2 separate regions of the Homo sapiens genome follow, and region 1 is linked to region 2. The links come from fine-mapping of genetic effects on gene expression. Tissue or cell type: whole blood. Region 2 holds a variant in brackets; the other region holds the start of a gene. All regions are shown on one strand. Distances are from middle to middle.

Region 1 (2,683 bases), 200 kb after region 2:
TACACCGGCCTTCCTAGGAGCCTGGTCCCATAAACCCTCTGGGATCCCCACTTTTGTGCACTAAGCAAATAGCAGCAGGAATGGGACCCACCTCGACTACCCCAGCCGAGATCTAACTATAGTGTCCCGGCTCCCTCACCCGCCACCCCTAGAGATTTCCCCAGTTAGCGCCTAGTTTCAAGCCAAAGCCCTTTAAATCCCTCTCGCAAGGGATAACAGGGCTCGGCCAGGCGCGGGTGTGAGGCTCCGCCCGGCCTCCTTCCCGAGTAGTCACTCACCGGCCAGGCGAAACTGAAAGGCAGCACGATGCGGTTGCGGTCGTTGCCGCGGCTGGCCTTGAGGTTGAAGGTGTTGCCCCCGATGACAGGCGTGGACCCTGAGCCGAAGCTGCAGGGCCCCCCGGCCGTGACGCGGGACTGATACTCCTTGAGGCACACTTTGAAGTATGTGTCACACTCGTCGCGGGTGCACTTGCGGTCTCCCGGGTTCCGGGCGCCGCCGCAGCAGTTCCCGTTCTGCAGCTCCCCGTTCACGTTCTGCATGGACAGGATCTCCAACTCGAACTGACCCGAGGCCCCACACACCTGCCGGCGAGGGAAGGAGGTAGGTCAGCGCGGGAGAAAGCTGTTTTCTTCGAGTATAGAGGTGGCGACTCCCTCCCACTCCCCGCCCCGACGAGCCCTCCTCGCCGAGTGAAAATAATTTTGCGAAACTACGTTCAAGGACTCAACATGATTCCGGGGCAAAAAAAAAAAAAAATGCACGAGTGCGGAAGAAATCCGACGACTTCCCGGGGGGCAACAGCGGAGCGAACGCGCCCCTGTCCGGCCTGGAGGGGTCACCCTCAGGAGGCAGGGGCTCCCGTGGGGGAGTTGGCGCGCTCAGCCCAGGTGCAGCCGCTCGGGCGCAGGGGCGAGGAGTCGGGCGCTCGAGGGCTGCCGAGCCTGCTCGCGGGGCTCAACCGCCCAGGGCGCCGCGAGGGGAGGGAGAGGACGGCTGGGAGGGAGGCCCGGAGAAGGGCTCCTACCTTGGCTCGCAGGGCACAGAGCAGGGCGAGCAGGAGGCTTAGGGGGCGCCCGGACCGGCCGCGCGTCCGTGGGGAACGCATCGCTGCGCCGCGCGCCGCGGGCACTCGGGACGCCGCCGCTGCTGTTCGCGCTGGTGCTGCCGCCGGTGCTGCCGTCGCCGCTGCCCCTGCGGCCGCCGCGTCCCGGCTCTAATATACTCCGCCGATTGGAGCATGCACGACTGGAAAACAACACCACTTTTCAAAAGCCCTTTCAAGAGCGGCCCGTTCCAGAAGGCAAAGAGCCCGGCCTCCTTTTATTATTCTGATCGCTTCTTTGAGACGCTCCCCCTCCTCTTCCACCTCCCGGCTTTCTTTCCTTCTCTCGCGCTCCCCTTCTTTTATTATTATGATTATGCGCAGCCTTTTATTCCCTTTTAGATCAGCTGCATGGAAAAAGGGGGGAGGGAGGGGAGAAAAAAAAAAACCAGCCTAGCTCGCGGGCCGGCCGCAGGTAACACAATGACGCGTGCCCGCCCGGCTCTCGGAGAAGGACCCGGAGAGCCCGTCTGGCAGCAGCGGCCGGGGCTGGCCACCTCTACCCAGCACGCCGGGCAGGGCGCATGCGCGCTTATTAATATTCATGAGAGGGCGTGCTCACCCTGGGCACGCCCCTCCCCTTCACGTTGCTGGGGAGGGGGTAGTGCGAGGAGGAACTTGGAAGGGGTTGGGGGCAGCGGGATGCTCAGGGCGGCGTAGAAGAACCAGGGCCCCACACCAACCCCCGCCCTCGGGAGCTTCGGGCCAGGAGGGAAGGGAGAGTGCGGGGAGGTACTTGGAAGGGATCGTTGCTCAGGGACGCCTGGAGGCCCCCAGCGGGGACCGCCCCCTCGGGCGCCCCGGGCCGTGCGCCTTTGCCCGCGCGTCGGGGCCCCAGGTGTAGGCGCCGCGGCGCTGACTGAGCGGTCGGAGCGGGGCAGCTTCCGCCTTCCGAACCGCCTGCGTCAGCTGCGGCTTTCGCCCCGGGAGGAGGGCCTGCCTGCCCGCCGGGAGTTCGGCCCGCTTCCCGCGAGCGAGCCGCCCAGAGCGCTCTGCTGGCGGCAGAGGCGGCGGCGAGGCTGGCGCGCTTGCCGCCGTCTGCTCGCCCCGCGGAGGCGACCTGGGCAGACGCTGCTGGGAACTTTGAAAAACTTTCCTGGAGCCAGGCTTGCCGCAGATTCGAGGGGAAGCCTCGGCCGCGTCCCACCCCCTCCCAAATCCGAGTCTGCGGAGCCTGGGAGGGCTCCCAGCTTCCTATCCAAACCGCGCCGGGGCAGAGGCGCGGGGAAACCGGGGGTAGAAGGCGGCGGGCACGCCGGGGCCCTGTTCAGGCTTTGGGAAGGGCCGGCGGAGATGCTGGTGGGCTTGGACGCCCTCCCCGGCCCGACGCCCCGGCCGCAGTGCCGGGATTGCACCTGTAGGCGGCCTCCGAGCAGCTCTCTGGGTGGCAAGAGATGGGCCTGGGAGGGACCGTGTCCCCAGCACCGCCAGCCGCGGAACTTGCCTTCTCTGGGGTGGCAGTGGAAACCGATACTGTTTTCCACCTTGAGGCAAGCCTCGCAATTAACAGCTACACTCCTGGTCATAATCAAGGTCGAAGAAAGCCCGTGGGCTGGCCGTAGCCTCTGCTAACCCCTC
Region 2 (2,683 bases):
ACAGTACCAAGTAACCATTTTAGTAAGTGTTAGGCATTATTAGTAATATTCATCTTCATTGTCATAAATATTGATAATCATTGTGGTTAATATTTTTCTGCCAGAGTGTGTCTTGAAGCAGCTTATTCTGCAATTCTTCTTAAAACTGCCAGAGTTCTGTTTCTTTTTTTTTTTTTTGAGACAGAGTCTCACTGTGTCACCCAGGCTGGAATGCAGTGGTGTAATCACGGCTCACTGCAACCTTCACCTCCCAGGTTCAAGCAATTCTCCTGCCTCAGCCTCCCAAGTAGCTGGGATTACAGGCGCCTGCCACCACGCCTGGCTAATTTTTAAAAAATGTTTAGTAGAGACGGGGTTTCACCATGTTGGCCCGGCTGGTTGGTCTTCTTTTTTTTTTTGAAAGGAGTCTTGCTCTGTCGCCCAGGCTAGAGTGTGGTGGCGTGATCTTGGCTCACTGCAACCTCCGCCTCATGGGTTCAGGCGATTCTCCTGCTTCAGCCTTCCAAGTAGCTGGGATTACAGACACACGCCACCATGCCTGGCTAATTTTTGTATTTTTAGTAGAGATGGGATTTCACCATGTTGGCCAGACTGGTCTCAAACTCCTGACCTCAGATGACCCACCTGCCTCAGCATTCCAAAGTGCTGGGATTACAGGCGTGAGCCACGGTGCTCGGCCTCAGGCTGGTCTTGAACTCCTGACCTGAGGTGATCCATCCTCCTTGGCCTCCCAAAGTGCTGGGTTTACAGGCATGAGCCACCATTCCTGGCCAAAGCTGCCTGAGTTCTGATTAGTTCTTTTTAAAAGCTTATGAATGGTGTGCTGGTCTAACAATATTTCAAGTTGTCAAGTAAGAAGGAGCTTCTTACAAAAGCCCATCGTTCTGAACAAGATATTCTTCAGTCCAAAATAATATTGAGAGATCACATAACACAGCTATGCAGATATATTCTAAGCCCTAACTTCGTGGGAGTCATTAATGCCATTTAATGAGGCCCCATACAATGTCTGAACTCTGGAGTTTGCTTTTAAGAGCCATTCTTTCCTAGACCCCCTTCCCTTCTTTACTTTAGGTATTGATGTCCTCCATTTACATCTCTGTGGAGTTTTTTCCTTTTTCTTTTTTCCCCCGCTCCCATTTGTGGTCAAATAAGGATCATGGTTA[A/G]CCCCAGAAGGAAGGCCAGATGGGCCTTGGGGGCCTGGGCTGGGGCTGGAGCCTCTCCACTTCCGCCGGCCGCCTTGTTCACTTCCTTTTTTTCCCTCCCTTACCACTATGTTGCAGCCAAACTTCCGAAGTGAAAAGCAGTTTATTCCATCTAATCGGGGCTGCTGAATCAGAGGTGTTGGGGGTGTTCCCTGGGATGATGCTGCCCTTTGGCCACTGATCTCTGTATCATAGCTTACCTCGGCCTCCCTCTGGCGCCACCATCCAGGACTGGAAGCATTTGCTTTTCCTCAGGGAGCCGTGGGTTCAGGCCATGGGTGGTGAGAGAGTCTCATCTTCTCCAGCTTCCTGGTCCTCAGACTTGAGTAACACTCCTTATCCTCTGTCTGTTGCCTTCTTTGGGCAAGCACGTGGAGCCGCTCAAGTAAAGCTGCTCTTCATTGGGAATATTATCTGCCAAGGCTAAGCCAGGATCCCTAGAGAGCATCCAAGTCAGGGCTTTCAGCAGAGTTCCCTGGAAGCACTGCATTCTGTGGAGGGCCAGAGCCAGATCCCTGTCTCTGCTCCAGCCGACAGCTCGGCCACCATCAGTTTGGTGTATTGAGGTCATGCATAGAATTTAACATTGAAAAACATCCTTGTTCAGCTCCTTCAGTGATGAGATGAGAATCCCTGGGGAGTGGAAAGTGAGGATCTCAGAAGTTGCCCAAGGGAACTTAGTGTCTTATTTAGAGTCATAATAACTAGCTTAGACTAGCGTAACTGCTAGTCAAGGCTCTTTGGAAGGAAGTAACACCCACGCAAACTACTAGAACTTGAAATGGGCAGTTTATGATAAGGGAGTGTGACTGTCTCAGCATACTGGCATCAGTGTGCTATTGAGCTGGTGAGGGCCTGGAGGTAGCTTCAGGTTGCCCATGGCCCTGAGGCAGCTTCACTGTGGGCCTCTCTTTGAGAAGTGGGATTCTGGTCTTTGCATCTTCCTTGTTATTCTCCCTCTGCTGGCCTCTCTCTGCTCCTTTGTTCATGTTGCAGAAGATAGTGGCTCCTCACCTCCCAAGTGACATATCCTACAAAACTGCTGCACTTTCTGCCCCAATAGCAAACTTCTGGAGGTGAATTTGGGCAGATGTCCACTTTTGCTTCATCGATTGTGGCACGGGGCAGTGTCACATGGTAAATACATGGCTGCCCATGCCCACCCTTGAGCATGACAGCTGTCAGAAAGAGGGGCATAGATTCCCCCAGAAGTTACATGATAGTACTTTACAATTTAGAGACTTTGCTGGAAAGTTTCTTTTTGGCAGTCTCATAGACAGGCCTTTTTACAGAACATAGTAATGAGCACTTACAGTTTGTAGAGAGGCCTCGGGGGCATCCAAGAGGTAGCTGGAATAATCTGACCCTTGAGAAGCTTCTCTTGGTTCCTGGGGATGACGATGGTCATAATTAACTGCTTTACTTACAACTTGGCAATGTGTTTTATTATCGGTGTGCATTTTGAAGTGTTTTAAGGT

The links. PIP is the estimated chance that this variant, and not a neighbour inherited with it, causes the effect.
Region 1: it holds the start of JAG1, and the variant in region 2 is fine-mapped to the expression of JAG1 in whole blood (INTERVAL, PIP above 0.99). The same link has a PIP of 0.9 or more in blood mononuclear cells.

Annotation. Positions count from the first base shown.
Region 1 is chr20:10,672,423-10,675,105 of GRCh38, forward strand. It overlaps JAG1 (jagged canonical Notch ligand 1), which reads right to left and starts at 1,577. Exons shown (of 26, transcript NM_000214.3): 1 at 1,028-1,577; 2 at 279-584. The coding sequence starts at 1,108. RefSeq lists a silencer at 1,800-2,199.
Region 2 is chr20:10,473,444-10,476,126 of GRCh38, forward strand. All of the region lies in intron 2 of SLX4IP (SLX4 interacting protein), which reads left to right. Among named protein-coding and RNA genes, the nearest start is that of SLX4IP, 39 kb to the left of the region's middle. The variant A/G (reference allele first, on the strand shown) is at 1,167.